3 linked regions of the Homo sapiens genome follow. The protein of the gene in region 2 interacts with the protein of the main gene of each other region in a pairwise test. Each region holds a gene or a part of one and is shown on either strand. Other genes may lie near its edges.

What was found.
Region 1: the proteins of PKP4 (region 2) and PGAM1 interact in a two-hybrid assay, tested with the Homo sapiens proteins (one large-scale study listed by IntAct).
Region 3: the proteins of PKP4 (region 2) and PAXIP1 interact in a two-hybrid assay, tested with the Homo sapiens proteins (one large-scale study listed by BioGRID).

Annotation. Positions count from the first base shown.
Region 1 is NC_000010.11:97,431,489-97,434,023, forward strand, and holds the end of PGAM1 (phosphoglycerate mutase 1), read left to right. Parts: intron 1-866; coding exon 867-1,036; 3' UTR 1,037-1,956; downstream 1,957-2,535. UniProt on the Homo sapiens protein: Catalyzes the interconversion of 2-phosphoglycerate and 3-phosphoglyceratea crucial step in glycolysis, by using 2,3-bisphosphoglycerate. Also catalyzes the interconversion of (2R)-2,3-bisphosphoglycerate and (2R)-3-phospho-glyceroyl phosphate.
Region 2 is NC_000002.12:158,463,385-158,467,042, forward strand, and holds part of PKP4 (plakophilin-4), read left to right. Parts: intron 1-3,658. UniProt on the Homo sapiens protein: Plays a role as a regulator of Rho activity during cytokinesis. May play a role in junctional plaques.
Region 3 is NC_000007.14:154,968,477-154,972,134, reverse strand, and holds part of PAXIP1 (PAX-interacting protein 1), read left to right. Parts: exon of another isoform or gene 1-928; intron 929-2,046; exon of another isoform or gene 2,047-2,081; intron 2,082-3,008; coding exon 3,009-3,658.

The sequences.
Region 1 (2,535 bases), on a different chromosome or scaffold from region 2:
TCCTTAGCTTGCCAAGCACAGTGGCTCATGCCTGTAATTGCAACATTTTGGGAGGCCAAGGCAGGAGGACCACTTGAGGCCAGGAGTTTGAGACAGCCTGGGCAACATAGTAAGACTGCATCTCTACAAAATTTTAAAAGGCCAAGCACAGTGGTTCATGCCTGTACTATCAGCACCTTGGGAGGCCAGGAGTTCAAAACCAGCCTGAGCAACAAAGCAAGACCTTGTCTGTACAAAAGAAAAATGAAAAATTAGCTTGATGTGGTGATGCTCATCTGTAGTCCCAGCTACTCAGGAGGCTGAGGCGGGAGATCGCTTGAGCCCAGCAGTTTGAGGTTATAGTGAGGTATGATTGTGCCACTACATTCTAGCCTGGGTGAGAGAGTAAGACCTTGTCTCTTAAAAAAAAAAAAAAGGAAAACAAATATATATAAAAGAAAAAATTCTCCTTAGTCACAACCAGGCACAACTTTACACATGAATCTCAATTTGCATCTTCATCCCCGAGGGCCTAGAGGCCCACGTGTGCTGATTTTTGGTTGGATGGGCTGTACAGGGTATTTGAGATGTGTAGTCTTGCTTCACTGTGGGCTTCTAGATCCCACTTTGGTAGAGATATCTGGCCATATACCTTGCTGTAGTTTGTTGGTGGTCTATCTTGTATACCTTTTCTTGCTTTTCAGTTTAATGGCTGAGAAATAAGTATGGTGGGGGCCATTCCCTGGGTTCAGAACTACTATAAAGATCAGAAAGGGTGTCTTATTTTAATTTCTGTCAAAGTCCTTTATCACCTGGAGGACAAAGTAAACCTGGAGGGGTGATGTGGATTTATGTCTTGTGTGGCTGATGATGGTGGATGTTTTCAGGTCTCTCTGAAGAGGCTATCATGGAGCTGAACCTGCCGACTGGTATTCCCATTGTCTATGAATTGGACAAGAACTTGAAGCCTATCAAGCCCATGCAGTTTCTGGGGGATGAAGAGACGGTGCGCAAAGCCATGGAAGCTGTGGCTGCCCAGGGCAAGGCCAAGAAGTGAAGGCCGGCGGGGAGGATACTGTCCCCAGGAGCACCCTCCCTGCCCGTCTTGTCCCTCTGCCCCTCCCACCTGCACATGTCACACTGACCACATCTGTAGACATCTTGAGTTGTAGCTGCAGACGGGGACCAGTGGCTCCCATTTTCATTTTAGCCATTTTGTCGCCTGCACCCACTCCCTTCATACAATCTAGTCAGAATAGCAGTTCTAGAGCACAGGTTCTCAGTCTAAGCTATGGAAAAGCTCCCCTTATCCAACAGAGTTTAAAAGTAGTGACTTGGGTTTTTGCGAGTGCTTTGTTTACTAAGGACTTTGGGGAGGAACCATGCTAAGCCATGACCAGTGAGGAGAAGCAACAGAGCCTGTCTGTCCCCATGAGCGGAGTCTGTCCTCTGCTCTTCTGCAGTCAGGTCACTGCCTACTGCCTGGGGGCTCTAGTCATTCCAGTGGAAGACGAATGTAACCTGCGTGGTGATGTGACAACTGTTTCCTCCCTGACCCCAGAGGATCTGGCTCTAGGTTGGGATCAATCCTGAATTTCGTTATGTGTTAATTTACTTTTATTAAAAAAGTATAGTATATATAATACAAAACAATAACCCTTCTGGGGTTTCTTGTGGCGGTTGAAATAGTCCCACATGTGGTCATCAGAAAATAAGCCATTCCTCATACCAATATAGGATCAGCTCCTTGACCTCTGAGGGGCAGGAGTGCTTCCTGGTGTGTGTATTAGAATCCCTTCCTGCCTTGTTTCATGGCAGTGAAATGCCTCTTGGTCCTGTCCAAGTGTATCTTTCACTGATTTCTGAATCATGTTCTAGTTGCTTGACCCTGCCACATGGGTCCAGTGTTCATCTGAGCATAACTGTACTAAATCCTTTTTCCATATCAGTATAATAAAGGAGTGATGTGCAATAGCTTCTTGTGTGATGTGGAAGACCTTATCTGAGGAAACTTTAGCATTTAACTTGAAATGTCTCTCACTGCCCTAGTCCTTGTGTGGCAGTTTGTTTTAGGACATCCAGTCACAACTTTACACGGTTGGTCAAAAAATGACGCATCTCCTTGGGGTTTTCACGTCAGCCTGGTGAGCTGAGGTGGTGGTGGGAGGCCCTCCTGGCCAAGCCCTCCATTCACGTTGCCCCCTGCAGCTCTTGCTTGGTGCTCCCCTGATTGGAAAGTCACATTCTGAACTCCATTATATCCTCTTTAGAGTAAGTAAAGTCTGCTTTTTGTTTTTTCTTTTTGAGACAGCCTCGCTCCGTCGCCCATGCTTGAGTGCAGTGGCATGATCTCAGCTCACTGCAGCCTCCCCCTCCTGTGTTCAAGCAAGCCTCCCACCTCAGCCTCCTGAGTAGCTGGGACCACAGGCATGTGCCACCATGCTTGCTTAATTTCTGTATTTTTAGTAGAGACGGGGTTTTGCCAAGTTGCCCAGGCTGGTCTCGAGCCAGTTTTGGCCTCCCAAAGTGCTGGGATTACAGGTGTGAGCCACCGTG
Region 2 (3,658 bases):
CTTTTCTGTCTGAAAGTGATCACAGTTGAAAAAAAAAAAAAAAAGGATATTTGAAATCAGCAGGAGACTCCCAAATCAAGAAAGGCTAGAAAAGAGGAAGGGGGTTTGGAATATACATGATATAAATCAACAGACAGTGGTTAAATAGATATCAAGAGGCTCTAGTTCTAGTCCTGGCTTTGCCACTATGCAGGTGTGTGTCCCATGAGCACATCATGTAACTCTCGTGGGCTTTAGTTTTCTTGTCTATAAAATGAGGGAGTTGGTCTAGATGCTCTCTAGAGTCCCTCTAGTACTTACATTTCGCAACTCTTAGAACATCAAGCCATTACATTTTTTCCTCAGCAAGAATATGCTGTCTTCCCAAGGATTTATGACAATTTACCCTCTGGGATAAGGAGGGAAAATTGAAGTTGTATACTTGAAATTCTCAGCTCCTGAAAATATGTGTCGCAGCCAGACAAACCTGTGACCCCTCTGTGGCTGAGTCAGTGGCTCCGTGTCTTGTGCGGTAGTGGTGAAGTGCTCCAGGAGTGAGGATCCCTGGGGCCCCTCGGGGCAGGAGCTGAGCAGTGAGCCTTTATGGAGCTGCACATCTGCAGTTTGTCACAGCCCTGACTTCTGGGACTTACTTGTCTACAACCAGTCCCCTGTGCACATTGGAGGCTTCACCTCTGATTGAGACTACATTTTTCAGAAGTTGGATAGAAACAAGAAAGGGGATTTAGCATGGTGGTTAGAAGGGACTAGTCTTGTTACAGTGAGAAAGATCCACTTCTTACTTGCTCAGATGGTTTGATTTGTCCTCAGAGAAGTTAAACAACTGACAGAGTTGCTCCTCTGAAAACATTTTGTATGAATACTTTAGGTTCATAGGGAACTCGTCAATCCATATCTCATAGAATAGAGGGACTTTTCATTCAAGTCTAATTTTTACATATAGACAATCTACCAGTGTTCAGAAATTGTGGCAGATTTCATGAGGAGAATTTTTTACTTGGATTTGTGCTCTTCTATAAAAAGTAATTTAAAAATTCAGTGATGAAAGTTTCTCCTAGACCCTGTTCTCTTCCTTTGTGGAGAAAAAAAATCCGTATAGAACTCTAGTATGTATTTATCTATAAAACAATTGTTTAAAAATATTGAGGTTAGCTCTTCCCCTTTGCTAATGCAATAAGCACATTATTTGCAAAGGGAAGCATTAATTATACTACTATTGTATGCAGTATTAAATGAATTGTCAATGTCACGATCAAAATAAACCCTTGAAGAACTGGCTGTTGTTCCCATACCTTCATGAGAATTGTAAACACTCATGTAAAATAGAAACCATTATTTACCACTTTGCAGTGAAATGGATCATGTGTTCTGACACCTGTACCCTGAGTTGAGTGGGAAACAGGGACTGTTTGATGAATTAAAGGTAACTTTATTCCTGTATACCACTAGGGGTGCAAGTGAGGGGACTGTAGACAATTAGTACTTTAGATATTTGTTGGAGTCCTGCTGTGTGTGCAGTATTGTGTTTCATTTTGCATACTTATTTAAAACGATACTACTTATTTGAAATGATTCATTTTAGTTCATTTTAACCAACATTTTTTAGTCCCCTACTCCATATCAGACTGATAGGCCTTATGGCCAAAAAGATGACTTCCTCCAGGGATACTTACTGTCTGTGTTAGATTCAGTAATGGGAGTCTCGGTCTTTAAGGAATCCATGATACATTTTTCAGTCTGGTTGGGAAAGATAAGACACATGAGGTAGAGAAGATTGTCCTAGAAATGTTGGTATATAAATAAGCATGTAACATTGTTTCATAAGTATTAAGGATGAGCTATAAAATAACTAGGTTGTAGCTCATACTTCTACTTGCTTAATTGTGTATTACATGATAAATTACCCGATTCTAGAGATATGCACTAACCACTCTCATTAGCTTTCTTTGGGAAAAGTCTGCACCAAAGATAAATAGTGATTTCAAAATAAGTTTTAATCATGAACTTGATTATTTTGGCTGTATCTCTTGAAACACTTTACCATATAGCCTATGTGAAATAATTAATCATAATGACAATACATGATTTATGAGAAACCATAATTTATGCTGTAAGACCTGCCATTTTATTACATTCTTATTTTTATTTTTCATGCAGCAGTATTTTCGTTTATTGTGTTTTGTGCTTTTCTTTTATTCTCTATGTAATTTGTGTGCCTTTATAAGCCCAAACTTGCTGTTGAAAATATTCCCTCCCATTGTTATGAATAAACAGAATGTTTCAAAATCTCTCGTGATGTATGCTAGAATAAATGGTCTCATTGAATCTTACTTTGAATCTCAGAATGATGCACTGATGGGAATTTTTCACTTACTGTCATTTTGTCGACAACTACATAAGCAGTAAGTCTGTTTAAAAAAGGCACTGACTAAGGAATCACAAAATCCAACTGGACTTCACAAGAACTATTAATACTATTAGTCTGAGACCTGTGATAAACAACTCAGATGTTAAAGGTCTAATTCAGACTGTCAACAGATGAAAAATAAGTGTCAGTCTGAAATCTTCGGATAGTATATCGGCAAGTGTCAGTCTTCCAAAATATTATTTAGAACTGTGAATATAATTTTTCACAGAAGCAACATTAATCCATAAATCTCCCGTCCTGTAGTGTAACTATAGTATATCAGTTCCATGGGAAAATAGTCCTGCTCTAAGCTACTCAACAGCAGGGACTTTATCTTTCTACAGGACTTAAATCTTGACCTCCAGTGGTTCTACATACCTTAAGTGAATGAATGAGTTTGAATTCTAGTTTTGAACACCTTCACCTGCTACTCTTGGATAATCGTGTCTGTTTGTGCCTAGTACCTATCCTCTGTCCTTTTGTAAACTGGTCTGAGACCCTGATACCATTTATCCTGCATGTTTCAAAGGAAAAAACTATTTAGACTTTAAAAAAATGCTTTTCTAATACAACTTGCTAGATAAATAATTCATTATACCAAATTCCTTAGTAAAGAAATTAACGGCTGGGTGCAGTGGCTCACACCTGTAATCCCAGCACTTTGGGAGGCTGAGGCAGGTGGATCACTTGAGATTAGGAGTTCAAGACCAGCCTGGACAACATGGTGAAACCCCATCTCTACTAAAAATACAAAAAAAAAAAAATTAGCCAGGCGTGGTGGCGGGCGCCTGTAGTCCCAGCTACTTGGGAGGCTGAGGTGAGAGAATCACGTGAACCCGTGAGGCAGAGGTTGCAGTGGGCAGAGATTGCACCACTGCACTCCAGCCTGGGTGACAGAGCGAAACTCCATTTCAAAAAGAAATTAATTAGAAGATTTTAAACAGATTGGTTCATATTCATTTTAAACTTAATTGCCTGGATTATAACCATAGTGAGATGAGTTTTCATAATGCTCTTTATCATACTACTAATAGGCACCAATCAAGCACCAAGACTAAGCTAAGCTTTGAAAGTGTGATATTGAGCAAACTTTCTGTATCTGTACCTTTTGTGAATCAGTAATATCTTTGTATACTCAGTTGAAGAGTTAAGACAGAAGTAGATATAATTTAAAGCACATGAAGTTTTTCAAAGGGGAAATGTTACAAAAATGCTAAGGGTTATTGGTACTATAAAATTACATAAATGTTA
Region 3 (3,658 bases), on a different chromosome or scaffold from region 2:
GAGACAAAATAATTTACTTTGAAATGGAAAGAATTGACTGCAGTAGGGAGTTTGGGCACATCTCTGCACTGGAAATTGTCCTTAGGAGACAAATTTGATATACTCAGCTGTGTGCTCTAGCGGTGGAAAACTGAGAAGGCTCCATCCATTTCTAGTGAGTGAATGGATTTGATCACTAGTGAGAAGAATTGCGGAGATTTTCTGAGAGACTTTCAGCAATGCAAGAGAACATAAGGACGTTTTACTTCTAGATGTGAAGAAAATGACTGAAACTTTAGAAATATGAGACAGATTTAGTTGAACATTAGATTGTTGGGGGGAGTGTAACTTACCATCAAAATCCTGTTTAAATTGCAAATTTATAGTGGTTAGAAGCCATGTGATGTGTATCATACTGCTTTCTATATATGGCATTCAGTAACTCAGTATTAATGTAAATGAGGATTATGACAGTTGTGATGGAAAAATTTAAACTTGACATTCATTCAGAATTGTTTGTAGTATAGCACAATTACGTAATTGAGCAATTAAGATTCTTTTTCTTACGTTCTCCAGGACTAACATGTTTCCAGCCAGAGGCAGATCAGATGGTTGAAAAAGTGATCGGATGAATGTGGTAGGGGTTTTGGGAGGCATCTCGATGGCTGGCCTTGCAGATTTCTCCTCTCCATCCAGGCCTGCACCTCTCGCTTCCTCAAGTGGAGAAGGTTCCAGGCCAACGGCCATCTTCATTCCTAGCCGGGACTCTTGTCCTGAATCTCCATCTGTTCTTCTCCCTTAATGGGGTGGGTCAGCAGTGGATGAAGACCCATCTTAACTCAAGCCCGTAGTAGAAACAGCTGTTAAGTTGCCTCCTGTCAGCAGTGGATGGGCTGGGTCAGCAGTGGATGAGGACCCATCTTAACTCAAGCCCGTAGTAGAAACAGCTGTAAGTTGCCTCCTGTCCTACCTAGGCCTCCCTCAGCCCTCTGAGATCAGATGGAGCACTTTCTGCAGGCAGCAGACCCTGCTGAGTCCTCTTGGCCAATCTGAAAAATAGGAGCCTCTGGCCTCTGTGCTGTCCTGATGTCTGCTGCTGTGTTTGTCTAGGTCCTGTGCCTGTTCCTGAGCTCCCTTCCACCTGGGCTTGGCAGGTACAGAGAGGCGGGGAGCAGCATTTGGTAATGACTAGTTCAGCCCTGTCCACCTGCAGACGGGCATTTATTTCTTTACCATCCCTCAGAGTTCCATGGGCTGTTTACATATGAGGGTGAAAAAGTAATATGTGTACAAAATTCAAAAATTCAAATGATACCAAAGGACAGAGTGAACAGTTAAACTCTCAGCCCCCCTCCCACCCCTCGCTGCTGTTTACCTTCTCAAGAGGCAGCCGCTGTTTCCAGCAGTTTGCCGTGTAGGGCTCATGGCTGGTGCCCACCAGGCAGGCAGGTGCCCCACACGTGCATGCTTCTTAGGGGGTGTTTGCACAGCACCAAATGCTGCTGGGCTCCATGGGGTGGCATGTTGTGGGGTGAATTGTCCCATCTTCTTTTCTGGATTTTTAAAAATACTTTTAAATATGGAGATGAAACAGTTGTCTTATTATTTTGTTTAAAAGACATTTTTCTGCTTAGAGTTCCACTCAGGTGTTTCTGAAGTCTTGAATCCTTTTATAGAGATGTCTCATACATAAGGTGATTTTAGAGATGGGTGTGCCCAAGCTCTTGATTTTGACTTATTTCAATTCTAAACTCCCTTATTTATTACTAAATCCAAAATCTGTTACCCTTGCAGGTCATATAATCTTTGCAATTTGGAATCTGTTTAAGTGAAAGATACATGTTAGAATATGTTTGAGATTTTGGTATAGTTCTGATATGTGTTAAATTCCTAGAATTTTATTTAAATTTTAAATGCTTTTAATAGGGTTAAAAGTTGTATGGATTGAGTTAAGTAAAATCTATTTTTACTGATTTCCATGACCATAAGAAGTTGGTTTCAAATTTTTGTTGCTTGAGCATGTTGAACAAAATTCATTGTATAATGTGTATCTCTTGTTGTATTCAGTGCCCTATAGGATATTAAAAAAATAACTTACTCTGCTTGGTGGGCATCTGCTGGTCACCGTCCTTCTCCTACTCCTCAGCGTACACAGAACTCTCAGCTTATTCCCTGTCATTGTGAAGCAGAAAGAGCTAGAAGACAAATAGTCTGGTTTGAATTCTTTTTTTCTAGCTTGAAATATTTTTGTGTCCCCCATGAAGACTCAGTCATTTTTGAGGAAGCATCATTTCCCAGCTCTAATGATGAGTCCTTAGTTGGGAGGAACATCACCATTTAAACAGCCCCGGTGGTGTCTTAGCTGGCCTCCTTTTCCATAGCATGCCAGTGCACATAGCAAGTTGACAGTGGAGCGAAAGGCTCTTGGACTCACAGCTTGGGTCATGCTGCTTTCATCTGGAAGGTGATCCACTGAGAACCTTTGTTTACTAGACTCTGGGCTGTAAGACAAGAGGAAATGGGAAGTGGCAGCTGTGGCGAGAAGGTTTGAGGTGAGGCTGAGCCCGATTACCAGATGCCTTCACCACCTGTCATTCCTCAGTGCATTCCTGGGCCAGGAGAGGGTCTGCGGAGCTGATGCAGGCGATGGGCAGTGGAGTGGTGCCGCAGCACGGTGCAGGGAGCACCAAGGCTTAGCTACCAGGTGTGCACAGGACTCCCATGCCCTGCTCTGGCAAACACATCAGCCGTCTGAGTCTTTGTCACTTTAATTCGTTAGTTTACTCCATTTTACTGATGTAGTTTCAAATTTTGGTGGTCTCAATATATGAATTTACTTTACGATATTGGCGTTACAAAATAAATACAAAAGAAAATGCAGTATTGTTTTTGCAGTTTCCAATCATTTGCTGTGTCTACTTAGTTGAATATTGTTAATAAATAGGATATGCCATTCTCTTGACTAAGAAATTATCATTCATCTGTTTCAGGAACTGTTGATAATGTTTCACCTAACTTTTGTTTTGTAGATCTTACAGACTCTTTCAGCACCTACGAAAAATTTAGAACAGCAGGTGAATCACAGCCAGCAGGGACATACAAATGCCAATGCAGTGCTGTTTAGCCAAGTGAAAGTGACTCCAGAGACACACATGCTACAGCAGCAGCAGCAGGCCCAGCAGCAGCAGCAGCAGCACCCGGTTTTACACCTTCAGCCCCAGCAGATAATGCAGCTCCAGCAGCAGCAGCAGCAGCAGATCTCTCAGCAACCTTACCCCCAGCAGCCGCCGCATCCATTTTCACAGCAACAGCAGCAGCAGCAGCAAGCCCATCCGCATCAGTTTTCACAGCAACAGCTACAGTTTCCACAGCAACAGTTGCATCCTCCACAGCAGCTGCATCGCCCTCAGCAGCAGCTCCAGCCCTTTCAGCAGCAGCATGCCCTGCAGCAGCAGTTCCATCAGCTGCAGCAGCACCAGCTCCAGCAGCAGCAGCTTGCCCAGCTCCAGCAGCAGCACAGCCTGCTCCAGCAGCAGCAGCAACAGCAGATTCAGCAGCAGCAGCTCCAGCGCATGCACCAGCAGCAGCAGCAGCAGCAGATGCAAAGTCAGACAGCGCCACACTTGAGTCAGACGTCACAGGCGCTGCAGCATCAGGTTCCACCTCAGCAGCCCCCGCA